Linked DNA regions of Homo sapiens. The protein of the gene in region 2 purifies or fractionates together with the protein of the main gene of each other region. This does not show direct contact. Each region holds a gene or a part of one and is shown on either strand. Other genes may lie near its edges. The genes, in order: ATP9A, RETREG3, RMND1 and CD63.

What was found.
Region 1: the proteins of RETREG3 (region 2) and ATP9A purify together in Homo sapiens (affinity purification with mass spectrometry; 4 studies listed by BioGRID and IntAct, with this or other methods). This does not show direct contact.
Region 3: the proteins of RETREG3 (region 2) and RMND1 purify together in Homo sapiens (affinity purification with mass spectrometry; 4 studies listed by BioGRID and IntAct, with this or other methods). This does not show direct contact.
Region 4: the proteins of RETREG3 (region 2) and CD63 purify together in Homo sapiens (affinity purification with mass spectrometry; 4 studies listed by BioGRID and IntAct, with this or other methods). This does not show direct contact.

The regions. Positions count from the first base shown.
Region 1 is NC_000020.11:51,758,365-51,765,390, reverse strand, and holds part of ATP9A (probable phospholipid-transporting ATPase IIA), read left to right. Parts: intron 1-7,026. UniProt on the Homo sapiens protein: Plays a role in regulating membrane trafficking of cargo proteins, namely endosome to plasma membrane recycling, probably acting through RAB5 and RAB11 activation. Also involved in endosome to trans-Golgi network retrograde transport.
Region 2 is NC_000017.11:42,579,013-42,585,398, reverse strand, and holds the end of RETREG3 (reticulophagy regulator 3), read left to right. Parts: intron 1-136; coding exon 137-274; intron 275-1,818; coding exon 1,819-1,901; intron 1,902-2,592; coding exon 2,593-2,725; intron 2,726-3,128; coding exon 3,129-3,586; 3' UTR 3,587-5,884; downstream 5,885-6,386. UniProt on the Homo sapiens protein: Endoplasmic reticulum (ER)-anchored autophagy regulator which exists in an inactive state under basal conditions but is activated following cellular stress.
Region 3 is NC_000006.12:151,442,113-151,449,138, forward strand, and holds part of RMND1 (required for meiotic nuclear division protein 1 homolog), read right to left. Parts: intron 3,714-7,026; 5' UTR 3,700-3,713; coding exon 3,196-3,699; intron 1-3,195. UniProt on the Homo sapiens protein: Required for mitochondrial translation, possibly by coordinating the assembly or maintenance of the mitochondrial ribosome.
Region 4 is NC_000012.12:55,725,989-55,732,901, reverse strand, and holds the start of CD63 (CD63 antigen), read left to right. Parts: upstream 1-3,892; 5' UTR 3,893-3,949; exon of another isoform or gene 3,950-4,106; intron 4,107-4,195; exon of another isoform or gene 4,196-4,386; intron 4,387-4,547; exon of another isoform or gene 4,548-4,549; 5' UTR 4,550-4,560; coding exon 4,561-4,626; intron 4,627-5,001; exon of another isoform or gene 5,002-5,038; intron 5,039-5,062; exon of another isoform or gene 5,063-5,290; intron 5,291-5,562; coding exon 5,563-5,751; intron 5,752-5,937; coding exon 5,938-6,012; intron 6,013-6,106; coding exon 6,107-6,202; intron 6,203-6,640; coding exon 6,641-6,781; intron 6,782-6,913. UniProt on the Homo sapiens protein: Functions as a cell surface receptor for TIMP1 and plays a role in the activation of cellular signaling cascades. Plays a role in the activation of ITGB1 and integrin signaling, leading to the activation of AKT, FAK/PTK2 and MAP kinases.

The DNA.
Region 1 (7,026 bases), on a different chromosome or scaffold from region 2:
GAGCCACTGTGTCTGGCCAATCTATTTCTTAAACAGTGACATGGATTTGGATTCAAATTGTGTATCAGGGTTGCTGTGCATTTGCGTAAATGCTCTTGTATATAATCTGCATTTTCAGGAGTAGCAACATCAAGGTGGAATCCTGAAGTTTAGAAACTCTTGAGAAGCACAGAGAGATGGAGGAGCTTCCTGAAATAGAACTAGGGGCTGGGGGATGGCAGCGTGAGGGCTAAAGTGGGTGGGTGGTTAAAGGAAGAAAAAAGTAATATGTAATGGGTCAGGCTGTCTGCTGGACACTTGAGATAAATAGGGCTGTTTTAATCCTTACAACAACCATGTGAGTTTTTGGAGTTAATTCTCCCATTTTAGGGGCCAGATGTGGTGGTTCAAGCCTGTAATCCCAGCACTTTGGGAGGCCAAGGTGGGCGGATCACTCGAGGTCAGGAGTTCGAGACCAGCCTGGCCAACATGGTGAAACCCTGTCTCTACTAAAAATACAAAAATTAGCCGGGTGTGGTGGTGGTGCCTGTAATTCCAGCTACTGGGGAGGCTGAGGCAGGAGAATTGCTTGAACCCAGGATGTGGAGGTTGCGGTGAGTCAGGATTGTACCACTGCACTCCAGCCTGGGTGAAGAAGCAAGACTCCATCTCAAAAAAAAAAATTCTCCCATTTTATTGACAGGGAAACAAAGATTCACTGATATTAATGTGTTCGTGGTCTTGGAGGTTGTGAGAGGAGGCAGTTTTGAACCGGATCCACCCATTTCACCTAATGGTTCTAGGCAATAAAGCTGTGGAATGGTTGGAAGATTTGTGGTTAAAAAAACCAAAAACGATGCCACATGTCATAGGGGACAGAATGCAGTTATTTCTGGGGTCACTCAGCGAATGTTGCGAAGACGTGCAGCTTATTTTTGGAGGAATCTCCTGGCTTCAAAGTTCTTTTCTCTCTTGAGAAAGTTACCACATCCTGATGTTGAGAAAACTTTTGAAATGGTGTAGTTAGGAAACAAGGCATTTCACCTCCATTGCTGGAAACCATTTTATGACATCATGCCCTTTGCTTATGGCTGAATGGAGCTCCTCTTGTGGTGAAATGGCAGGGATTATTTGTTAGGAGCCAGGACGCAGGAGTCCATTGAGGAGCTGGGTTCACACCCAGGCTCTGCTGCTTACTAGCTGTGTGATCTTGGGAAAATAACTTTACCTCTCTGAGTCTCAGTTGTTTCATCTGTAAAATGGGAATATCAATAATTATGTATCTCATAGTTTTTTAGTCCATGTAAAGTTTAGGAGAATAAGTGCTCAGTATGCCTTAGGTGTTTACTAGGGCTAATGGTAATCCTTAGGTGTTTGCATGAGGTTTACCGTTGGGGTCTACAGTGTGCTTCTTTGAGAGGAGGGGCCTTTTATGAGAAATTTAGAAATATGAATTTCACTGCTTTTTCCTGATCAAATTTAGGAAAATGAATAACTATGTAGAGCATTCTGTCCAGGTATGTCGAGGCCCTGGTGTGATGTTGTGGCAAGGATGGGAGCTTAGGTACCAGGTGGCCCAAGACTTTGCCTCATTGTAACAATCTACGTTTTGTGGGTGGCCACACTGGATGAGGATGCTTTGATGCTTGATATATTTGGATTTGGGGGACTAGGAAGTTTTGAATATGAATCAGATTGAGAAAGAAGAACTGAATAGATATGTTGTCTACCACAATGTTTTAAACAGCTTTATTGAAGTATAATTTATATAGCATACATCTATTGAAAGTATGTAAACTGGCCAGGTGCGGTGGCTCATTCCTGTAATCCCAGCACTTTGGGAGGCCAAGGTGGGCGGATCAGGAGGTCAGGAGATCCAGACCATCCTGGCTAACACAAGTGAAACCCCATCTCTACTAAAAATACAAAAAATTAGCTGGGTGTGGTGGCGGGCACTTGTAGTCCCAGCTACTCAGGAGGCTGAGGCAGGAGAATGGCGTGAACCCAGGAGGCAGAGCTGGCAGTGAGCCGAGATCGCGCCACTGCACTGTAGCCTGGGCGACACAGCGAGACTCCATCTCAAAAAAAAAAAAAAAAGTATGTAAACCATTGATTAAAAAAAAACCAGGTGTATGGAGTTATGCAACCATCACTCCGGCATGGGTTTTGAATGTTTCCATCACCTCCGAAAGTCTCCTCCAGCCCATCTGCAATTCATCCCTGCCCTTGCCCCAGTCCCAGGCAACCAGTGATCCGCTTTCTGATTCCATAGGTTTGCCCTTTCTGGAAATTGTCTATCAATGGAATCACACCACGTGTTGCCTTTTGTGTCTGGCTGCTTTAATTTAGCATGAAGTTTTTGAAGTTTCTTTTTATTGTGTAATAGAATTTCAGTTGGGCTTGGTGGCTCACACCTGTAATCCCAGCACTTTGGGAGGCCCAGGCAGGAGGATTGCTTGAGCCCTGGAGTTCAAGAGCAGCCTGGGCAACATAGTGAAACCCTGTCTCTACAAAAAATAAATAATAATAATAAAAAAAGCCAGGCATGGTGGCTTGAGCCTGTGGTCCTTGCTACTTGGGAGGCTGAGGTAGGAGGAGTGCTTGAGCCCAGGAAGCGTAGGTGGCGGTAAACCCTGATCATACCGCTGCACTCCAGCCTCGGCAACAGAGTGAGACCCTGTCTCAAAAAAAAAAAAAAAAAAAAAAGCCATTTGTGGATATATCACCTTAAATCTTTTTGTTTGTTTGTTTTTAGACAGGGTCTCGCTCTTGTCACCCAGGCTGGAGTGCAGTGGCATGATCTCTACTCACTGCAACCTCCACCTCCCGGGTTCAAGCGATTCTCATGCATCGGCCTCCTGCGTAGCTGGGATTACAGGCTCCCGCCGCCACGCCCAGCTAATTTTTTTTTTTTTTTTGAGACAGAGTCTTGCTCTGTCACTAGGCTGGAGTGCAGTGGTGTGATCTTGGCTCACTGCAACCTCTGCCTCCCGGTTCAAGCAGTTCTCCTGCCCCAGCCTCCGGAGTAGCTGGGACTACAGGCGCATGCCACCACGCCCAGCTAATTGTATTTTTAGTAGAGATGGGGTTTCACCGTGTTGACCGAGATGGTCTCGATCTCTTGACCTCATGATCCGCTCACCTTGGCCTCCCTAAGTGCTGGGATTACAGGCGTGAGCCACCATGCCTGGCCTAATTTTTGTATTTTTGGTAGAGACGGGGCTTCACCGTATTGGCCAAGCTGGCCTTGAACTCCTGACCTCAAGTTATCTGCCCACCTTGGCCTCCCAAAATGCTGAGATTACAGGTGTGAGCCACTGACCCTGGCCCGGCCCAGTGTTATCACAGGGTCCTTAAAAGCGAAAGACAGGCAGGAGAGTGAGTGTCAGCATAAGAGAAAGATTGGGAGAGGCTGCACTGCTGGCTTGAAGAGGGAAGAAGGGGCCATGAGCCAAGGAATGCGGGGGACTCTAGAAGTTGGAAGAGTTAAGGAAACGGACTCGGTTGGAGCCTCCAGAAGGAACACGGCTCTGCTGACACCTTCCTTGATTTTAGTCCCATGAGGCCCATTTTGGACTTCGGACCTAACTGTAGGGTAATAAACTTGCATTGTTTTAAGCCACTCAAGTTGTGCTAATTTTTTTTTTTTTTTGAGGCGGAGTCTCGCTCTGTCGCCCAGGCTGGAGTGCAGTGGCGCAACCTTGGCTCACTGCAAGCTCCGCCTTCCGGGTTCGCGCCATTCTCCTGTCTCAGCCTCCCGAGTAGCTGGGACTACAGGCGCCTGTCACCACGCTCGGCTAATTTTTTGTATTTTATTAGAGACGGGGTTTCACCGTGTTAGCCAGGATGGTCTGGATCTCCTGACCTCGTGATCTGCCCGCCTTGGCCTCCCAAAGTGCTGGGATTACAGCCGTGAGCCACGGCGCCCGGCCAAAGTTGTGCTAATTTGTTACAACAATGAGGAGAAGCTGTCACACACCGATGTGTGCTGCAGACCCTGGGAACGGATTGTCGTGCTCCTCTTTCCATCCCACAAAGGGGACTGGAATCTAGACAGGAAGCCCGCCACCTGGGTGGAGGCATCAGAGGCATTTCAGAGGTCCTACATTTTGCCTGAGAGCATAGAGCTTATGTCAGCATGTTTATGTGACTCATTATCTGACGGTGGAGGAAAAAGATGAATATTTATTTAGGACCTGCAGTGTTTTGGCTCTGAACTCATGTTTCCTCTTTCATGCTGCACAATGGCCCTTTGATGTTGGTAATTTTTTTTATTCTTGCTTTACTGATAAGGAAACAAAAATGCCCTTTCTCTTTGATGTGATGGAGGTGGTGTTAGGTAGGACTCTCATTACTCTCAGGACTTACATTCTTGTTTTTTATTTTGAGACGGAGTCTCACTCTCACTCAGGCTGGAGTGCAGTGGCGCAGTCTCGGCTCACTGCAACCTCTGCCTCCTGGGTTTAAGCAATTCTCTGCTTCAGCCTCCCAAGTAGCTGGGACTACTACAGGCCTGCGCCACCACCACGCCCAGCTAATTTTTGTATTTTTAGTAGAGACAGGGTTTCACCATGTTGACCAGGATGGTCTTGATCTCTTGACTTTGTGATCCGCCTGCCTCGGCCTCCCAAAGTGTTGCGATTACAGGCGTGAGCCACTGCACCTGGCATTTTTTTTTTTTTTTTTGAGACGGAGTCTTGCTCTGTCGCCCAGGCTGGAGTGCAGTGGCGTGATCTTGGCTCACTGCAACCTCCACCTCCCAGTTCAAGTGATTCTCCTGCCTCAGCCTCCCAAGTAGCTGGGATTACACATGCCTACCAGTATGCCCGGCTAATTTTTGTAGTTTTAGTAGAGACGGGGTTTCGCCATGTTGGCCAGGCTAGTCTCGAACTCCTGACCTCAGGTGATCCGCCTGCCTTGGCCTCCCAAAGTGCTGGGATTACAGATGTGAGCCACCGTGCCCTGCCCAGTACTTACATTCTTTATTTCAGTCGTTGTGAGCACTGAATTTTCGAATATGGAACCATTGCTCTTAGGGGAAATATGGGGTTAGGTTCCTGAGAGGCTCTGGTCACATTATTTTTGTTGACTGATCAATGAAGAACCTCGTTTTAGGTGTGTTTCTGTTTTTTAAAAACCGCATATTTAATGTACGTTATGGATTCATTAACATCGAACTCACAGGCAACAACTCTGTAACTCACGCCTGGAGGCAGCTTATCTGACACGTGTATTTTTTCCACGTGGCACATCCCAGCCTTCCTGTGCTTAGAGATACTAGTTCTTCTGCACTGTGCTGAGGGGCCATTTTAAACTGCAAAACCATCAGGGAAAAGCACAAAAATGCACAAATCGTGGCAGTAAGAGACCACAAAAATGACTCCTATTTGTAGTGTGAGAGCTGCAATGAGAAGCCTTGTGTCACCTCAGCTGGGAATGTGTGTGTCTGGGGGCGGGGCAGGGAGGAGCAACTCACCATTTTGGCTACACTGCACGCATCCATTAGTGACTGTGAAGGGGCTGCAGCTGTTGATTTGGGATTACAAGTTTGAGGGATTTGGTGAATTTGCAAATACAGAAATTATAAATTATGAGGATCAATTGTATATAGTGGGGTGGGTGTGTGTTTCAATGTCCTTCCTTTGACAAAGTGGAGATAGTATTAGATATGTGGCATGTAGGGGTGTGTGTACATCTTATTTTATTTTTTAATTTTATTTATTATTATTATTATTTTTGTGACAGAATCTTGCTCTTGTCGCCCAGGATGGAGTGTAGTGGTGCGATCTCGGCTCACTGCAACCTCTGCCTCTGAGGTTCAAGCGATTCTCTTGCCTCAGCCTCCTGAGTACATGGGATTACAGGCACCCGCCACCACGCCTAGCTAATTTTTGTGGTTTTAGTAGAGACAGAGTTTTGCCCTGTTGGCCATGCTGGTTTCGAACTCCTGACCTCAGGTGATCCACCCACCTCGGCCTCCCAAAGTGCTGGGATCACAGGCATGAGCCACCGCACCCGGCCGTGTGTGTACATTTTAACATCCTTTCTTTGATGTGGTGGAGGGAGTATTAGATACCAAGCATATAGGGGTATGTTTTGAGGGAGGGGATTGTGCTGGTGGGTGAAACCCAGAGACACCCCCCTCCTCAGCCACCGACCTTCCCCTCTCTGGGCTGGAGGAGAGAGTTGCACCAACAGCTCTTTGCCCCCCTGGGATGAGAACAGTGGAGCTTGGCAGCGGCCCATGGGGCTGTGCTCTCTGTCCTCTGCCAGCGCCCAGCTGCACTTGCGCCATCCCCTTCAGTTACAGAGGTCCTCCCTTGCTCTGCCTTGTGCTGACCAAAACCAGACTAGCTGCTCTCTGCCCACGTGGAGACCAGAAGATGTGTTGTTGCAAACCCACAGAGGGACTCTGAAGGATGGAGTGTGGACATGGGTGCCGTGCCTGCCGGGCTTCCTTGCAGACGGGCTCTTTCTTTTCTTTTTTGAGACAGAGTCTCCTTCTGTTGCCCAGGCTGGAGTGCAGTGGTATGATCTCGGCTCACTGGAACCTCCGCCTCCCGAGTTCAAGCGATTCTCCTTCCTCAGCCTCCTGAGTAGCTGGGATTACAGGTGCAGGCCACCATGGCTGGCTAATTTTTGTATTTTTAGTAGAGACGGGGTTTCACCATGTTCTGCAGGCTGGTCTCGAACTCTTGACCTCATGATCCGCCCGCCTTGGCCTTCCAAAGTGCTGGGATTACAAGCATAAGCCACTGCGCCCAGCCCAAAAGGGCTCTTTCTACCTACTGTACAGCTGGCTGGCGAGAGGAGGTCCCTGTAGTCCAGTCCGCAAGGAGATGGGGGCACCCTTTGACCTTGACCTCTGTCTTGCATGCAATAAGTTGGAAAAAGGAGGCAAGGCATGGAACCGGCCATCTTTGGACTTTTGTCCCTTACTTCTCAGAACAGAATGTTCTTTTAGTGTCTTTACCCAGATGGAAATGTTGAAAGTCAGTGATAAGGGCTGGCTGTATTTTATGACTGCCTTTGAAGGGGTGGAGGGGT
Region 2 (6,386 bases):
AGATGACTGGCAGACTTGGGCAGATCTGTTCCACACTTTGTGTCCAAGCCCTAAGGACCAATAGCAGCGCTACAGTTGGGAATGTTTTTTGCAGCCCCTTCTCCATTTTGTCACTGTTTCCCATGCCTCCTCACAGTTGTCACTGTCATGATGTGGCCCCTTGCTGTGTACCACCGACTGTGGGATCGAGCATATGTGCGGCTGAAGCCAGCTCTGCAGCGGCTAGACTTCAGTGTCCGTGGCTACATGATGTCCAAGCAGAGAGAGAGACAATGTAAGTGTCATGGTGTCATTCTTTCCACTTACGCAATTTGGGGCGAAAAGGAGAAGCCCATAGGTCTGACATACTGGGTGGGTCCTCAAAAGTGGAAGTCGGGGGTAGTTGGTGGGGGTGAGGATTGATAGGTAAAAATGATATTCTGTTCTAGGGAAACCTGTGCAGGCTTGCCAGTTTTTATCATTTGTAATCCTAGGCTCCCGTTTTAAACCTATCTGATAAAAGCTCTTTCAAGTTGAATAAAAGCTAGACAGTGAAGATAAATTCCTAGTATTTGTGGTTTGTTTTTTTTTTTTTTTTTTTTTTGAGACAGGGTCTCATTCTGTTTCCCAGGCTGGAGTGCAGTGGCATGATCATGGCTCACTGCACCCTTGACCTCCCAGGCTCAAGTGATCCTTCTACTCAGCCCCGCCAAACCCTTCAGTAGCTGGGACTACAGGCATGTGTCACCACATCTATCTGATTTTTAAATTTTTTTGTAGAGATGGGGTCTCATGTTGCCCAGGCTGATCCTGAACTCCTGGGCTCAAGCGATCCTCCTGCCTTGGCGTTCCAAAGTGTTGGGATTACAGGTGTGAGCCACCGTGCTGAGCCCAGAGCAGATCCTTTCAACTCCTAAGCCTGGTCTCTTCACTAGTAAAAGCTGCCTCCCAAAGGTGATTAAAAACTGCTGCCTCAGAGGTTGTAAGTGTACTAGCCTGAGATCCATGCAACACAATGATGGTAGTACAAACTTTTCCCTCCCTTGTGTGGTCTTGTCAGGTTTTGTGTTTTATGGAGGCCTGGCCTTCAAAGAGCCCTGCACTTGGTCACCAAGGCCCAAGTCCCCTTGGGGCAGCCAGTTGAATAATACCAGTCCTCAAAAGTCTGATTTAACAAGGTGTGCATCTCCTTTTGCCCTCTCTTTGATCATGTCCACTTAACACCTTGACATTAGGTCTGCCTTTAGCCATCCAGAGAGTTGTTGACAAAGCCTGGTATTTGATCATCTGACCAGAATAGAAATGTGTGCCAGGCCGGGCGCAGTGGCTCACACTTGTAATCCCAGCACTTTTGGAGGCTGAGGTGGGCGGATCACCTTAGGTCAGGAGTTCGAGACCAGCTTGACCAATATGATGAAACCCCGTCTCTACTAAAAATACAAATATTAGCCAGGTGTGATGGTGAGCACCTGTAATCTCAGCTACTCAGGAGGCTGAGACAGGAGTATTGCTTGAATCCAAGAGGCAGAGGTTGCAGTGAGCCGAGATCGCGCCATTGCACTCCAGCCTGGGCAACAAGAACAAAACTCCATCTCAAAAGAAAAAAGAAATATGTAGGGTCTGGTGGAGAGGATGTTGGAAGCTGAGATATTTTCTCCAGTGTTTTCAACTCACCTTGCATTTAGGCTCAGCAGCTCAGCCTTCTGTTATTATTATGTAGGCTTAGAGCCAGATTCAGAGAGGCTCTTTGTTTTGTGTTCTGATTTTATGTCTTTAAAGTCCAAAGGGGATTTTACGCTGGGAGAAGGTATCAAGCAAGACTTTGTGCTCTTCCCACAGTACGCCGCAGAGCTCTCCACCCAGAACGAGCCATGGACAACCACAGTGACAGCGAAGAGGAGCTTGCTGCCTTCTGTCCTCAGGTATCTTGAGTGTGGGAGCTGCTTCACTGTCCAGTTTTCTTTAGCTACCTTTTAACCATCCGACAGCTCACATTTAGGCCATAACCAGGTTTGAGGCCTTAGACTCCCCTTGTTCCCAAGACAAGGAGAGAAGTGAGACTTTGTTCCTAGATCTCAATTTTTTTCTTTATCATATCATTCCTGTAATCAACCTAGGTCTCAATTAGAGCCTGATGCCCAGCACCGCTCTTCCGTATCTCTTTTTACCCTACCATTATGGAAGAACTTCTGGAGCTAGTATGATCATCTTTTAAACAGCCCAGTTCACCCTTGGGTCTGTGCAGTATGTGTATCCTCCTACCACTTTGAAAAATTATCTCTGGATCAATTATTTGCCTTAAAGTAAGTGGGTAATTGACTCCCCCAAGACTGCTTTTCTTCCTGTGCTTAAGAGGTTATGAATGAGTGTTTTCTTTGGGAGAGCAGCCTAAAAGGGGTCAAGATTTTTTTTGTTGTTGTTACTTTCACATGTATTGATTAAAAAAAAAATAAAGGGGAGAGGGAGTTTTCAACGGGAAGTTACCATCTATCCCTGGTTACATTGATTTGATGGCCTTCGGATAACTAATGCTAGCTGATTAGTAAAGCTGTACCTGGTGACTACACCTGGTTCCTGATGGCATTATCTCACATTTGTTGGTCTTTTCCTAAGCTGGACGATTCTACTGTTGCCAGGGAATTGGCCATCACAGACTCTGAGCACTCAGACGCTGAAGTCTCCTGTACAGACAATGGCACATTCAATCTTTCAAGGGGCCAAACACCTCTAACGGAAGGCTCTGAAGGTGAGGGGAGCCTTTGACCTCAGTTGATAATGGCTCTGACTGTTGCCTCTTAGCTTCCCTGAACAGAGGGGATACTGGTGCTTGCCCCTCTCCTGTTTTCTGAGCTATGGATCAGGCGGCAGAGCAGCCTGAGTGCTGTGGCTACAGCCAGGATGGCACTGCTGCCCTTCTTGAAGACTTTAGTCCCTTAGTAGCCTCAGGCACTAGCCTCACAGGGGACATAGAAGAGAGGGGGAATTGTGTAGAGATCACAGCCACCTATAAGTGGAGGGGAAAGGTATACCAGTCCCATGGGTTTATTTCGCCCTGAGAAAGCCAGGGTGGGAAAAATCTGGTCATGTGGGGCTGGGGCACAGGAGGGCCAGGTAGGTGCCATGACTCAGACACTTCTGTATTCCACCAGACCTAGATGGTCACAGTGATCCAGAGGAATCCTTTGCCAGAGACCTTCCAGACTTCCCTTCCATTAATATGGATCCTGCTGGCCTGGATGATGAGGACGACACTAGCATTGGCATGCCCAGCTTGATGTACCGTTCTCCGCCAGGGGCTGAGGAGCCCCAGGCCCCACCTGCCAGCCGGGACGAGGCTGCGCTGCCGGAGCTCCTGCTTGGTGCTCTTCCTGTAGGATCCAACCTCACCAGCAACCTTGCCAGCCTGGTCTCCCAGGGTATGATTCAGCTGGCCTTGTCAGGGGCCTCCCAACCAGGCCCTTCTGGAGCACCTGCCCAGAGAGCAACGAGAGGCTTCCTCCGGTCCCCCAGTTCAGACCTGGACACTGATGCTGAGGGGGATGACTTTGAACTTCTGGACCAGTCGGAGCTGAGTCAGCTGGACCCTGCCAGTTCTAGGAGCCACTGAGGCAGAGACTCCTTTTGGGAGTCACTGTGGTTTAGGTTTTTTTCTCCCCATCCCACTTAAGGTGATGGGGCAAGGGAAGAACTCAGCTCCCCTCCCCTGAATTATATTTGTATGCTGGGTGGCCTGGCTGATGCTCAGAGGCCTCCTTAGAGAGGACACTCACTCCCCTCCCACCAGCTGGATGCCCATTTCTGAGCTCAGTCACTGAAGTGAGAGTGTGCTCCCCCAAGGGAGGCTTCTCTCCATCAGGATGGTACTTTGGGGGAACAAAATAGTCAGGGATATTGGTTCCCCTTTGAGGAGGTGCTGCTGTTTGCTTTTAGGTATGAGTGCTCAGGGGCCCTCACTGAAAGAGCCCATGCCTGCCTTCCTCCTTTCATCGCCTCTCTAGAGCCCCCAAAGTCAGGCAGCAGCTGGAGTAGTTACATTGTCATCATCTTTTTTTTTGAGACAGTTTCGCTCTGTTGCCCAGGCTGGAGTGCAGTGGTGTGATCTTGGCTTTCTGCAACGTCTGCCTTCCAGGTTGAAGAGGTTCTCCTGCCTCAGCCTCCTTAGTAGTGGGATTACAGGTGCCCGCTACTATGCCCGGCTAATTTTTCTTTTGGTATTTTTAGTAGAAATGGGGTTTCACCATGTTGGCCAGGCTGGTCTCAAACTCCTGACCTCAAGTGAGCTGACTGCCTTGGCCTCCCAGAGTGCTGGGATTAGTCGTCATCTTTTGTTAAACCAGGATTTGATTTTTTTCTTTTCTTTTCTTTTCTTTTTTTTTTTTTTGAGACAGAGTCTCTCTCTGTTGCCCAGGCTGGAGTGCAGTGGCACAATCTCGGCTCACTGCAGCCTCCGCCTGCCGGGTCAAGCGATTCTCCTACCTCAGCCTCCTCAGTAGCTGAGATTACAGGCATGCACCACCATGCCCGGCTAATTTTTTTGTGTTTTTAGTAGAGATGGGGTTTCACCGTGCTGGCCAGGCTGGTCTAGAACTCCTGACTGCAAATGATCAGCCCGCCTCAGCCACCCAAAGTGTTGGGATTACAGGTGTGAGCCACTGTGCCCAGCGTGATTTTTTTTTTTTTTTAAAGCAAACTTGTCCTTTGGTTTTGCAGAACAGGCCTGCTCCCTCTCATCTAGCCCATCATTTCTTGGGGCCTGAACCCCAGTGGTCCAAAGTATTGCTTGTGAAATTTAAAAAATGTGAATATGATGTGGGGATGGGCCTCTTCTACATTACCTTGGCCCAGGGGGATCAGCTGGCTGGGAGGATTAGTGAGCACCTCTGTATTTTGAGGTCTGAGTCTTCTGGAGCTGTGTAGTTAATCTTCGGTTTCTGATAACCCCTGGGTCCATCTGGCCATCAGCCTCAGCAGTGAGCAAAGCAATACCATACTCATTTCTATGTTCCTGTTCCTTCCTCTGCTCCTCCTTTGGAGAAGCAATAATTCATGGGGGATGATACAGTAGCACTTTACAAATGGCTCCATGTCATTCATCCCAGGGGCCATAATCTCTTGCACCACCTATTCTTACTTCCTGTTCAGCTCCTTTACAGCTTTTATTTTCAACTGCTTCCCAACTTGGTGGGGCCTCCTTTAAGGATGAGCCAATAGTAAGAATGTGGCTGTAATCAGCAGAGACCCCTCTGAGGGGTATCTGTTCTGCAGCCCCTAGTGAAATCATGTGATGTGAGACAGAAACCTAAACATGGTACTTGATTCTAAACCTGTGCCAGTCTATAGCCTCTGCCTCCCCAAGCAGAGCTCAAGCCAAACGCTTCTGTCCTCTTTCCTTCTGCATTAACCCTTTGCTGATCCTCAGGGGCCACTCCCCCAACACCCCTGTACTTGGGTGAGGGATGTTGGACAGAGCCTGTTTTCATGTACTGCAGGTGGGGGTGTGCTGACATGTTTGCTCTTGGTTGATGGAGAAGGTACAGAGGCCAGGGAGTGAAAATGGTTGACAGAAGAGGGAAGAGTTAGGTGTCTCATAGTCACTCATAGTGGGGTGGTCAGGGGTAATGGCATCTCCCCACTTTAGGCTTCTCAAACAGACTTTTGACACCTCTCAAGTTCAGAGCTCTGATGTGGAAAGACAGGAGGTGTGGGGAAGGAGGGGGATTTCGTGTGTTTGCATGAGTGTGCGCTTCAGGCCTTGGGAGTTGGCAAGAGGGAGGGAAGGAAGGAGAGCAAAATCTTCGGAAGGTGTTTCTTGTACCTGAGGGATCCTGCCCTGAATCTCCATAGTCTCCACTGTGAACTGAGGAGGGGAGGGGTGTGCTGGGGAATAAATCTTGTATGAGAACAATCTTTAAGAGACTGATGCTGAATGGTGTCCTACCCTTGATAGGTCTTCTCTTGTAAATCTGAGTTCTGATTAATTTGAAGTGATAGCCTTAAAAGAGGAAGCCCAGGTATGAGGGACCCACCAGCCCACCCCTATTTTTACTTCGTGATGGCCAGAACATCACCATAGTATGAGGCTACTTTCCTTCTTGTGAGAGCCCCACCATCAGTATAACTGGCACTCTTGGCTAGTATTTAGCCTGTATTTCCTTCATTTCTAATTTCTTTTTTTTTCCTGAGACGGAGTCTTGGTCTGTCGCCCAGGCTGGAGTGCAGTGGTGCGATCTCTCACTGCAAGCTCCGCCTCCCGGGTTCACGCCATTCTCCTGCCTCAGCCTCCTGAGTAGCTTGGACTACAGGCGCCCACCAGCACGCCTGGCTAATTTTTTGTATTTTTAGTAGAGATGGGGTTTCACAGTGTTAGCCAGGATGGTCTCGATCTCCTGACCTCGTGATCCGCCCGC
Region 3 (7,026 bases), on a different chromosome or scaffold from region 2:
ATCATACTAAGGAAAAATGCCTTTTCTCCTGTAACATACTGATTGGAGATTAAAGCTATAAAAACACAGATACATTTTACGTTACCAAGATCACGCTTTATCCTGTAAGTTTTTCTGACTACAACCTATAAATCATTAAACATAGTACATATACACATATATGCTTACACACCAATTGCCACAAAAGCTTCACAAACCAGTATTTACGTTTATCATGAGCAATGTATTCTGTTATTTTCTATTCTATTTCATTTTTCAAAAAAATGGTTAACAGTCCACCAGTGATTCTGTAACACAGTGCTATTAGCCTGAAAACATTCTCCCTGGTGTCGGGCTCCATGCCACTCAGACCTGCCGTTCCCATCCTCTGCTGTTCTCTTCAAAGACTGGACATTAACAAGAAGCACTGCTATTATTGTTTTCTTGTTTGTTTAGTGACAGGGCCTCACTCTGTCGCCCAGGCTGGACGGAGCGAGGTGCAGTCACGACTCACTGCAGCCTGGAACCCTGGAGCTCAAGCGATCCTCCCACCTCAGCCTCTTGAGTAGCTAGGACTACAGCTGCGCACCAGCAAGCCCGGCTTTTTTTTTTTTTTTTTTCCAAGTCTTTTAGAAATGGGAGTCTTGCTATGTTGCCAGGCTGGTCTTCAACTCCTGGCCTCAAGTGGTCTTTCTGTGTCAGCCTCCCAAAGCACTGAAATTATAGGCATAAGCCACTGGATCCACTATTGCTTTTAGGAATTGTAAGCCAAAGGGATGTGGGTTGAGTATCTCAGATTATGATCTCTGAAAATGAGACCAGGTAAAGATTTAATTCCAACAGACAGGGTGACTGAAACCTCATTCAGCCAACTCCAGATGCACGCTGTTCTGCAGAGCTGAAAAGATGAGCTGGGTGCAACTATGGGAACAAAATAAAGTCCACATGCTTTCTGACACAAAGCAGAGTCTTTTCCTTGTCTCAGTCAAGAATGGTATAAAGGGTTTACCATTTTGATGGTATAAAGTGGTATAAAGGGTTTACCACTATGATGGCCGTATAAAAATGGAGTGGCCCTCAATTTCGGGCAGAGGAAAGTCAGTCTTTGGTCCTGGGGACATATTACCTAGTCATGCCAAGACTGCTTTCTCTATGAAAAGTAAAATCTTCAAAAAATGATGTTCCAAAATTACATTATCTCAGACCACTTTAGAAACATGATTTTCTTCTCTTTTTTTGAGACAGAGTCTCACTCTGTCACCCAGGCTGGAGTGCAGTGGCATGATCTCAGCTCACTGCAACCTCCACCTCCCGAGTTCAAGAGATTCTCCTGCCTCAGCCTCCCGAGCCGCTGGGATTACAGGTGTGCACCACTACGCCTGGCTAATTTTTGTATATTTGTAGAGACAGGGTTTCACCATATTGGCTAGGCTGGTCTCGAACTCCTGACCTCAAGTAATCGCCTGCCTGGGCCTCCCAAAGTGTTGGGATTACAGCTGTGAGCCACCGCCCAGCCAGAAACATCTGATTTTCTATTATTTCCCTGTGCTTTCAGAAAGACAGCATGCGACTTGCTCTTGCCAAACTCCAACTGAAGTCATTGTCTATCATGTTACATAATGTCTCCTATAACAGAATCCATGAAATAACTAACTCCTTAATTTCAGTGCTGGAAAAAGTTATTTCTCTGAAGATATTTTTATGTTTTTACTCTGCCCTCTCCCACAACAATAAACAACAAACACTAAATCCCAGGAGGAGTTCCTCTTTTAATTACTGCGCTTCTCAAAACAAAATGTTCAACTAGATTATTCATTTCAGGTACTTCATAACATTTCTCTGTTCATGTCAACTATTTGCTCTAATATGTGAAAGTATTTATTATCTCATTTGAAACTATGTTGAATGTTGAAAATCTACTTCAAATTCTTTCCTGGAAGGAAGTAGAAAAAAAAATCTAAAGAAAAATAGATACGGTATTTAGGAAAATTGCTTCCAAGTCTAAGGATGGCCCAAAGAAATAGCCTAGGGACATCTCTGACCTATCAGCTTCTTCCTAAGAAACCTGATGCACTGTGCTGCTAGACGTTACAAATGAACAAAGTGAGTTGAGCTTTCTCTTTTTTGGAGCTGCCATGAATTCAGGTTTTTACACTTAATGCCATCTCGGACACTTAAATACTGAATTTCCCAGGTTACCCCAAAGCTCCAGCAAAAGGAAAGGGGAAACAGTAGCTGCACAACACTTCATCCTTCACGTCCTGAGTTCAGAGTAACCACACAAGAATTGAAAGCATTCCAGAATCCAACACAAAAACCATTCATTCATTGCTAGATTCAGAATCAGAGGATGAGTAAAGGTATGTATGTATACCTTTCCAAGGGGTGTCAGCTGCACAGTAATAAAAACACAGCCAAAATGAAACAGGCTCAGGGGCTACTTTTCAGAATCAAGACTTGAAGACAGACATTCTAACCTGTTTTCTGATAGATTCAGAAGTCTTCATCAAGTTTAAAATATCTTTAAAGTTGATGACTATCGGCATTAAAGATCCTCTTATAAACATTTAAGTACAAGGTACAGTTCTAGGTATTATGCAAGATACAAAGGTTATCAAGGGCTTGATCTTGACCCTTAAGTTGTTACTGAAGGAGAAATGCAAATTGTAGCAGAAAAATTCCCAGAAACCCCTTAAGGATGAATAAAAAATACCCCCTTAAACCTTAAGAGGATAAAAAAGCTGGGCCCTCCTCTCCTGCTGCTTTTGGAGTCCACCCTACCGTGTCATTTCACCGCCCCATGCAACTGCCACAGCCTAATAAAGGCTTATCTGTCTGCAGAGTTACAATTTTTTTTAACTTGATGAAGAATTTCTAGTTTGTTTTTTTTTATTTTATTTTTTTTTACAGTCCCATTCTTAGACTGGACTTAATATTGGTCCTCTTTTTCAGTTTCCTTAGACCAATAACCAAATCTTTTATAAACTCTATTTTCATGTGTTATCACCTGTATTTTGTTTTTATATGTATCATTAATTGTTAAAAATTAAGATTCTGAATCCCTTTGGATATTTATTAGGCTTCAAAGACCTTGATGAAGAAGTCTGAGTGACTGCTAGTTCTCTTACGTTGGCGGTAAGGCTGGGGTGCAACGCACACTGGTTTAGCATGAGCAATGATCACTAAGCACGAGAGCCACGGCCACCCCTACTTTACCTCGTTCACAGACAGAACTGGAAGGTTGGTCCTGGATGGCTGTCTGGTCCTGGATGCTTTTAGTGGTCTCTTCACCTGTGGGAAGTCTTGTTTTGGAACAAATGTTTCCGTTGATACAGATGAGAAATGCCTCTTTAATATTTTTATAAACCATTTAGAACCCAACAGATTTGGTTTGTGGGTCACTCTCCTGTGAGTACCAAAGGATTTCATGGTTGGAAGGTGTGCCTTTTCATCTTGGCAACGAGCAGCATTTAATGGAGACAGCATGCTGGTATCTGACTTTTTTTGGTTCATTTCCAGGATCTGAGACTTATTCAAACCACTAGCTGTTTTATCAGGAAGGAACAAATCCAAGCTTTGACGTATTGTCAGTGTGCTGCATGTTGTATTTTCAAATTCCTTAAGTGGTTTTAACATTAGATGACCGATTCTTCGGCACTGATGTGCTTTTGATAATATATGATGAGATCTGGCCACGGCTCTGAGGAGTGTGGCTGGCATTACCACATCCCAAGCTAAAAGAAAAGGAATTCAAAGTTCAAGTTTTTAAATTAATGTTTAAAACATATATAATATTTCCCTAGGTAGCAGGCATATTTCTGTTAGAAAAATTTGTAAAACAGATACATTCTAAGTTAATTCTAGTAAAAGAACAAGGTTAAAAATATAAGTACAGTGTTTCTGCCACTTTGCCTTTAGCAACATTTGGCCTTCTTCCTGGAAGATTACAAGATTATAAAGCTACTGACATAACAAGAACCTTAAAAAAAATAGTGATGGGACCACTTCATTTACTTCATTAGCATATCAAGTATATAAAAATCTGTGCTGGCCAGGCACTGTAGCTCACACTTGTAATCCCAGCACACTGGGAGGCTGAGGCAGGTGGATCGCTTGAGTCCAAGAGTTCCAGACCAGCTGAGGCAACATGGTGAAACCTCATCTCTACAAAAATGACAAAAATTTAAAAATTAGCTGGGTGTGATGGCAGCTCATGCCTGTAGTCCCAGCTACTCACAGGCTGAGGTGGGAGGATCACTTGAGCCCAGAAGACTGAGGCTGCAGTGAGTCATGATTGTACCACTGCATTCCAGCCCTTTTTCTGTCTCAGGAAAAAAAAAAAAAAAATCAGGAAAGGTTCCCAGAAAGATCTAAGCTGATTCTAGAAGGCGAAGGTGCTTTTCAGCTTGGGGCTGGGCATGGGAGTGCGAGGCATGTCAGATACACACATGAACATTCCAGACAAGGTAAACAGAATTTCCCCCTTATTTACAGTATGAAATGTGTTATTTTAAAGTTAGCCTATAGTAGGCCACACATGGTGGCTCACGCCTGTAATCCCAGCACTCTGGGAGGCTAAAGGCTGGGGGGATCACTTGAGGCCAGGAGTTCAAAACCAGCCTGGCCAACATGGCAAAACCCCATCTCTACTAAAAATACAAAAAAAAATTAGCCAAGCATAGTGGCTTTAATCCCAGCTACTCAGGTGGCTGAGATATAGAATCGTTCAAACCAGGGAGGGAGAGGTTGCAGTGAGCCAGGATTGCCCCACTGCACTCCAGCCTGGGCGACAGAATGAGACTCTGTCTCAAAAAAAAAAAAAAGTTAGACCGTAGTAATCAATAATTCTTTTTTTAAAAATAATATGTTAGGTGCTAGAGATAGATGAATCAATGATCTCAGAATTCAAAGTCTAGCAGAGGAAAATGAACGAGATGCACAAATTGCTCTAGTCCAGAGAAAGGAGCATGTGAAGAGTGTGGCATTGTCACAGAGGTGACATTTGAACTGAGTCTTGAAAGGGCAGAAGGATCAGCAAGTTAAACACCCCAGGCATGGAGTCCTATTCATCTCCCCATCTCGGGGAGGTAGGAGTGAGCTGCAGGAGGTAAGGACCAAAAGAGCCGATGGCCAGATCACCAAAGGATATATAAAGTCATCCTAAAAAGTTTCTACAGGTGGGGAGAAAGCTGAGCTTTTAACTCAGAGTCACACGGTCAAATGCATGTTCATGAAACAAATTTTTGGTGATGATATGTAGGAGGAAACAAGACAGACTCTGACATCACTCTGAGCGCTTTCTACATGCTAAGTGCTCGGCTTCACCTCATAATGATCCCATTTCACTGATTAGGAAACTGAGGTTTAAAGAGGCTAAGTGCTCACCGTTAAGAAGCTGCAGAGATGTAACTAAAATAAAACCCAGGCTTTCCCAATTCCAAAGTCAACACTCTTACCCACTACCTTGTATTTACTACCTCTCTTCAGGATAAGGACAAAGATGATTCACAGTGATATTTAGGAGGTAGAACCTGCTGCTTCCAAAATCCCTTCAAAAGCTCGCATTCTGTGCTTCATTCTAGTCCAATTGGCTACTGTAGTTCACCTTTAATTAGTACTATGCCATGCCAGTTGAACCACTTAATTTTGAAGAAACTATAAAATATTTTAGAAGTTTGTCTACAGTCCTGGATTCTTTTTATTCTCTTTGAGTAAATTCTTTTTTTTTTTTTTTTTTTTGAGATGGGAGTCTCGCTCTGTCACTCAGGCTGGAGTGCAGTGGTGCCACCTCAGCTCACTGCAACCTCCGCCTCCCCGGTTCAAGCGATTCTCCTGCCTCAGCCTCCCGAGTAGCTGGGATTACAGGTGTCTGCCACCATGCCTAGTTAATTTTTTTGTATTTTTAGTAGAGACGGGGTTTCATTATGTTGGCCAGGCTGGTCTTGAAATCCTGACCTCAGGTGATCCACCTGCCTTGGCCTCCTAAAGTGTTGGGATTACAGGCGTGAGCCACCGGACCCAGCCCATTTTTATCACTGCACCTTCTAGAAAGCCTAAGATTACATTTGTGCCTTACACTGTTTTTCTATCAGACAGGGCCCTATTGTCATTATCAATACATCGGACCTCCTCATCTCAGTTTCATCCATTTTACTCTCTAAGCACCACCTCCTATCTTTGCATCTCACTCCTTCTATTACCCAATTCCAATAATTCTTCAACCCCAACAGGACCCACAAGTCAATGATCCAACCACCTTTTCACTGTCTCTCACTCCCCATGACTTCACTTCCTCCATATCCAGTTTACACTCCATGGTCTACCATTCTAACCTCTCCCTTATACCCCTAGAATCCCTTGCATCCCTTTCTTCCCAGTCTTTCCCATTCATGAGCAGTAATAAGTATCTTTATAACTGCTAAGCCAAAAACGTGGGGTCCAGCTTGACTCTTTATTCTCCATATCCAACTTCTCAGTAAATCCCAAGGGCCTTCTAGGGACCACTGCTCATCATCAGTAATAATACTACCTGATCCAAACTGCTATCCTTCCCATGGATTATTATAATAGCTTCTTAACCAGTTTTCCTGATTCTGTTTTGGGCCCCCTACAGTTTCTTCTCAACACAGCAACCAAAGTGATCCTTTGAAGTTGAATCTCAACGCGAAATCTAGCTGTGGCTTCACGGTTCACTTAATAAAAGCCAAAGCCCTCCAACCAGGCATGGCGGCTCACGCCTGTAATCTCAGCACTTTGGGAGGGATCACTTGGGGTCAGGAGTTCCAGACCAGCCTGGCCAACACGGCGAAACCCCGTGTCTACTAAAAATACAAAAATCAGCCGGGCATGGTGGCATGGGCCTATAATCCCAGTTACTTGGGAGGCTGAGGCACGAGAATGGCTTGAATCTGGGAGGCGGAGATTGCGCCACTGCACTCCAGAATGAGCAACAAAGCGAGACTCTGTCTCAAAAAAAAAAAAAAAAAAAAAAAAAAAGCCTGGCGCGGTGGCTCACGCCTGTAACCCCAGCATTTTGGGAGGCCGAGG
Region 4 (6,913 bases), on a different chromosome or scaffold from region 2:
AAAATTAAAGAAAATGTTTTTTAAACTGAAGCCCAAGAAGCATTGATCCTTCATGTATTTTTGCCTCCTCTTCCCCCATCCTTCCCCATGCCTCCCACCCTCCTCTATGTCTCTCACTTTCCGGTTTTTCCTCACCCCTCTCCCAACTCTCCTCAACTGTTCTTTTCCCTTGATTCTGGATCCCTTCTTTCTTCCTCACCTTCCTCATATCCCCTCACCCTCCTCATATCCCCTCACCCTTTCCTGTGCTTAGATGCAGGCTACAAGCTGCTGTGCATGGCACTGGGTCTGGCTGATGCCTACATGCTCTCAGAAGGCTGCAGGTTTGCTTGAGACATCTGTGGCCCCCATGCTGTGTCGCTGGGCCTAGGTGGAGGCGTGGTGAAGCTGGAGGGAAAGCTGGCTTTGCTTGGTGTGGAGGGACAAGGGTCCCCGCCTCAGCACACCTACCACCAACTGGTGCCAGGCAACCAAGAGGCAGCAGCCTGGGCCAGCCAGGACGGCTTGGTGGCATATCTGGATGTCAGGCACTTGGAACAGGTGCTGGGGGATCTGAAGGATGTGAAGGGCCAGGTCTGAGATCAGCCACTTCCCACTAAGAGGCCCCTCTATCCTGCACCCCAGCAAACACATGGAGCTCTGTGTCAACTTTCCAGGCTGTAGAAGTGGGCCATTCTTTGTGTGTATGTGTGTAGTAAAATATATATAACATAAAATTCAGGGACATTGAGTACATACACATTGTGCAACCATCAGCACCATCCATCTCCACAACATTTTCATCTTTCTTTCTTTTTCTTTGAGACAGAGTCTCGCTCTGTTGCCCAGGCTGGAGTGCAATGGCACAATATCGGCTCTACTAAAAATACAAAATTATCCAGGCATGGTGGCGCATGCCTGTAATCCCGGCTACTCAGGAGGCTGAGGCAGGAGAATCTCTTGAACCTGGGAGGCAGAGGTTGTGGTGAGTTGTGCCACTGCACTCCAGCCTGGGCAACAAGAGCAAAACTCCATCTCAAAAACAAAAACAAAAACAAAAAACCTAGATGTTTATGGTTAAGGAAACAAATTAATAATAATAAAAAAGATAATATCGATTCTTACAAAATACAGTAATTAAGAAAATTAATCCTTTATCACAAACTTTTGTAGCAGAGCACATCTCTCCATATATACAAGCATTATACCGAGGGTGAATGTGTTCCTCCTCTTACTTTTTTTTTTTGAGACAGAGTTTTGCCGGGCACAGTGGCTCACGCCTGTAATCCCAGCACTTTGGAAGGCTGAGGGGGCGGATCACGAGGTCAATAGATGGAGACCATCCTGGCCAATATGGTGAAACCCCATCTCTACTAAAAACACAAAAATTAGCTGGGCGTAGTGGTGCGTGCCTGTAGTCCCAGCTACTTGGGAGGCTGAGGCAGGAGAATCACTTGAACACGGGAGGCGGAGGTTGCAGTGAGCCAAGATGGCACCACTGCACTCCACCCTGGTGACAGAGCGAGACTCCGTCTCAAAAAAAAAAAAAAAAAAAAGAGAGACGGAGTTTCACTCTTGTTGCCCAGGATGGCATGCAGCAACACGATCTCTGCTCACTGCAACCTCTGCCTCCTGGGTTCAAGTGATTCTCCTGCCTCAGCCTCCTGAGTAGCTGGGACTACAGGCACACATCATTGTGCCCAGCTACTTTTTGTATTTTTAGTAGAGACGGGGTTTCACCGTGTTGGCCAGGCTGGTCTCGAACTCCTGACCTCAGGTGATCCACCTGCCTAGGCCTCCCAAAATGCTGGGATTACAGGTGTGGTGAGCCACTGCGCCTAGCCCCTCCTCTTACTTTGGGGAACATCCTACTCTGTCTATGGAGCAGCTGTTGTTTCACCACTTTACTTTCTTAATAAACTTGCTTATACTTTGCACTGCGACTCGCCCTGAATCTTTCTTGCATGAGATCCAAGAACCCTCTCTTGTGGTCTGGATTGGGACCCCTTTCCTGTAACAAATGCATTGGCTGATAGGAGAATAAAGAAAAAAAAAGAGGAAAAACTAGAGTAACTTCTCTACATAATCATATTATATGACCGTTTTGTTAACCATGATAACAGTTAACAAAATAATTTTCTTATGTCTAATTCTCAGTCCATGTCTGTATGTCCCAAAATGTCTTTCACAGCTGGTTTGTTCAACCATTCAATGAAGGACCAAACATTGCAGTTGGTTGTTATGTATCTAGTCTCTCAATCTTGATCTTCAGACCACCTTCAGCCCATCTCACCACATCCGTCCCAAGCCCTTTGAGCCAGCCAACCCCAACCTGCCATGTACTTTACAAAATGCTCCTTTTTTTTCCACAGTCGACTGCTTCTCTGTCCCTGGAGCTCTCCCCTTTATTCTCCAAGGTCACCTTGAGCACATCCTTCTGCTCCGTGAAATCCATTCTCCTCTCCCTTTCCCTCCCTCTGAGCTTAACCAGCTGCCACCGCAGGCTTCTGCCTTTCTTCACAGTGTGGCCAGAACTCGGTTCTGCCTGCTAGCAGAGGGCAGGGCCGCTGTCTTCCTCTCCTTGCAGCCCCCAAGCCTAGCACATGCCTGGCATCTAGTGGCAGCACAATAAGGAACCTGATGAATACTCCTTTCTTCTGCTCTCCGCTCCTCCTCCACAGCCTGCCAGCCATGGTCAGGAAGAGCAAGATCCGGAATGGGCTTGGTGTGTCCCGCGGGAAGGCCGTGATCCTGGAAGATGCTTCTCAGCCCAGCCCGGATCTCCTTCCTTTAGCTCTAGAGACTTCTTTCATTCTTTGTGTACACACATACACTAAGACTCAGGAAGTGGTTCTTGAGGCAGGACCTTAAGAGCCCAAGGAGTGGGGCCGAGGCTGGAGGTGTGGGGGTGTGACGGCCGGTCCTACTCTCCGGCCTGTTCAGATCAGCTCCTTCTGGGGACCACCCCTGGCACACAAGGGAGGGAGGCAGCTTGATCCCCCTAGCCCGCTTCCAGCCCTCACCTGGCTTTGTCTTCTGGGATAAGACGGGGAAATCCAGAGGATGTAAGCCTCTCCTGCCTTCGTGTCTTCCCCCAAGCCCTCGCTATCACAGACGGATGCAGGAGCTGTCTGGGAGGCTGGAAGCACAGACCTTGTCAATCCTCCCCCAGAGGGCGGGACCCGACGCGGACGTGTCTTGATTGACTGGGTAGCGTGGCTTCGGGGAAGGGCTTCCTCCCCTTTTCTCAGACTAGGATCCCTGGAAAATGGAGAAGCTGTGCTAATAGAGGGGGGCCAGAAATCCCCACTCTAGAATGCTGTAGAATGTTGGGAGACACCCAGGATGTGAGCCAGGGACTTTCTGGAAGTGTTTGTTCTGGCCCCACCCGACCCCAGGCAGTCCCCAGCTGTCTGCACAGTCGGATGGGGAGGGGGCTTGCACAGAGTTGGAGCCAGAGGAGAGAGCTGGCTCATCCCCTACGGTAGGATGGGGAAACCTCACAGACCACATTGTCACCCGGCCTCAGCTCTCCGCCCCGGCGCTCAGAGGGTAACTCTCACCCACCTCGTCCGCTTCTCTGAACCAGAGTGACCCAGGCTGCGCTCCGCCCCGCTCTCCTACCCCGAGTTGGCACGGAGGTATAGCGCCAGAGGGGGGCCCCAGGCGCCCCGAGGTCTTGCCCTTGCGGCTTTCCCTTTGCGGGGGTGGGCGCCTTCTTCCGGGTAGGGGCCACGTGGCCCTGGCCGGGCGGGGGGCTCGGCCCACCCCGCGCCGGGCCCAGTGACTCAGGCCGCAGCTGTTACCGCGTCACATGAGGGAGGCCGGCGGCCACTCGGCGGGGGAGGGGACCGTGGCTGGAGCCCGGGGCGGGGCCGCGCGGCAGGCGGGGCGGGAGCCGGGGGGCGCAGCTAGAGAGCCCCGGAGCCGCGGCGGGAGAGGAACGCGCAGCCAGCCTTGGGAAGCCCAGGTGAGGCCGCGGGGACCCGGCGGACTTCGGCGCGGGCTGGGAGAGACCACCCGCAGTCCCTTCCTCCAGGGCTCGCCCCAGGCCCGCGGAGACTCGTCCGGCGCTCTCCAGCCGCCCTGGAGCAACTTTGCTTCGAAGTTCCCTGGGCCCGGGCAGGGTGTGGCGGGGGTGCTGGCTGCACTTTTTTTTTTTTTGGTGGGCGGGGAGGTCAGAGCCCAGGGGAAAGGGGCTGGGGCGGGGGTCGGGGTTGGGCTGAAGACCGTTTCTCCAGGCTGGGTGTTGGGTGGGGAAAGGGTGTTTGACGCCCGGAGACTGGCGGGCCGAGGGTCGGCGTCAGGCTCAAGCCCCTGCCGGCGCCCTTGGATCTGTCCTGGGCCCCAGAGGCGGCGGGGCGGGGTCCGGGCTTCGCGGCCGTCGCCCCCACCCCTCTCCTGCGGGTAAAGAGGGGGCTGGGAGACGTGGATCCGACCGCGGGTTTCCGGGTGGGAGGGGCCGGGAATCGGGGCCGTGAAGGGAAGCCCTCGAGGGCCGGCCGGGAGCCCGGAAACCGAGGTCCCCCTTCGGCCAGTTTTAATCCCCCCGCCCTCCCCTCTGCCCCAGGCCCGGCAGCCATGGCGGTGGAAGGAGGAATGAAATGTGTGAAGTTCTTGCTCTACGTCCTCCTGCTGGCCTTTTGCGTGAGTGGCGAGGGGTCCTGGGGGGCGCGCCGGCAGGGTGCGGGGAGACCTGGCTCCACAGTGGTGAGGGCTGAGGGAATGAGAATTAAGGCAGCTGGAGACCAGATGTGGAAAGAAAGCCAGGGAAAGACAGCGCAGCCACTCCCTCCTCCAGTTTTCCTGGACACCTGAGGCTTGTTTCCACCGAGAATGGCCATCCTGGGTGTGCAGCAACCCCTACCCCCATCCCTCCTGGCCCTTCCTGTCTGGTGACCCAACCACTTGTGATATGGGGCAGTGGGGCAACCAGCCAACCGCCTGATGCTATCGCCATGGGGCTTCCCTTCGCTCTCCCTTCTCCCCTCTCTCCCTCCCCAACCCTCTCATCCCTGTCCAGCCCCTCTCCCCCTTTCCCTCCTCCCAGCGCTTGGGGGTGAGGAAGGGCTCTGCCCACTTCAATTTGCTCCTGCCCTGGGCTCCTGGCTTGAGAGGCTACTGTTTGTCTAGGGAGGGACACATCACTCTTGCTCCCTTTTCCTCTTCCCTTCTCCTGGCCTAACTGGCCAGAGGAACCTTAGTCACAGCTGATGCGCGCGTGGGATGTGCACTGGAGGATAGTGAGGGGGCAGTTCTGGGAGAGAATTGAGCTGGGAGCCCTGGAGGCCTGTAGAAAGCATTATTCTAGGTCAGAAATACGTGTCTTGAGGTCAAGGCTTTCTGGGAGGTTTTTGAATTTGGTCATGTCCCTGATTAAAGAGCCGGGAGGGGATCAGGGGAGGTAGGGGCAGGCAAGGATGGGTCATCCCCCTACCCCACAGCCAAAGAAATTCCCTAGAGGTGTGAGAATCTCTCTTCCGGATGGGGTCAAGTCTGTGTCCTAGGTGTACCCCCTGCCCTCCACCATGGAGGGCCACTGTGTTGTGGATATGGCCTAATCCTCACCTGATTTTCTCTTAGGCCTGTGCAGTGGGACTGATTGCCGTGGGTGTCGGGGCACAGCTTGTCCTGAGTCAGACCATAATCCAGGGGGCTACCCCTGGCTCTCTGTTGCCAGTGGTCATCATCGCAGTGGGTGTCTTCCTCTTCCTGGTGGCTTTTGTGGGCTGCTGCGGGGCCTGCAAGGAGAACTATTGTCTTATGATCACGGTGAGTTGGGGGCGGGACCAACATGGGCGGTCTGGGACTGCCAGAGCAGCTTGGTTCGGGCTCAGGAAGGTGGGTGAGGTGGGTGGGTGAGGAAGACCTTTGTGAGTGTCCAGGGACCGGCTGTGCCAAAACGGGCCCCTGTAATGCATAGACTCCAAACTTGACTTCTGTCCTTTGCTCCTGCAGTTTGCCATCTTTCTGTCTCTTATCATGTTGGTGGAGGTGGCCGCAGCCATTGCTGGCTATGTGTTTAGAGATAAGGTAAGCAGGGAATAATGGGAAGGGCCTGCCTCAGCCGGGTCTGGGACCCTGGTGCTTGAATTCTGACTGCAACAGTGCTCCTCCGTACTCTCAGGTGATGTCAGAGTTTAATAACAACTTCCGGCAGCAGATGGAGAATTACCCGAAAAACAACCACACTGCTTCGATCCTGGACAGGATGCAGGCAGATGTGAGTGGGGTTGCTGGGAGCAGGGGTGGTGGGAATAGAGAATTCTCATCTCCAAGGCTGGGTGTGGTGACTCACGCCTGTAATCTCAGCACTTTTGAAGGCCGAGGTGGGCAGATCACCTGAGGTCAGAAGTTCAAGACTAGCCTGGCCAACGTGGTGAAACCCTGTCTCTACTAAAAATACAAAAATTAGCCAGGTGTGGTGGTGAGTGCCTGTAATCCCACCTACTCAGGAGGGTGAGGCAGGAGAATCGCTTGAACCCGGGAGGCGGAGGTTGCAGTGAGCCGAGATTGAGCCACCGCTGGGCACTTGTCTGGGCAACAGAGCAAGTCTCTGTCTCAAAAAAAAAAAAAAAAAAAAAAAAAGAATTCTCATCTCCATATTGAAGGTGAAGGTTCACTTAACAACCTTCTTCTCCATATTTCTTCCCTCCCCCAGTTTAAGTGCTGTGGGGCTGCTAACTACACAGATTGGGAGAAAATCCCTTCCATGTCGAAGAACCGAGTCCCCGACTCCTGCTGCATTAATGTTACTGTGGGCTGTGGGATTAATTTCAACGAGAAGGCGATCCATAAGGAGGTAGGGAGGAGACTGTGTATGGGACTTGGGAAACCTGGGAAATGTTTTAGAATGCAAGAGACCCAGGATGGAGGTGGACAGGGTCAGGGATGGGGAGGGGATCTGGAAATGCTAAGGGTGGGGTGAAAGGTA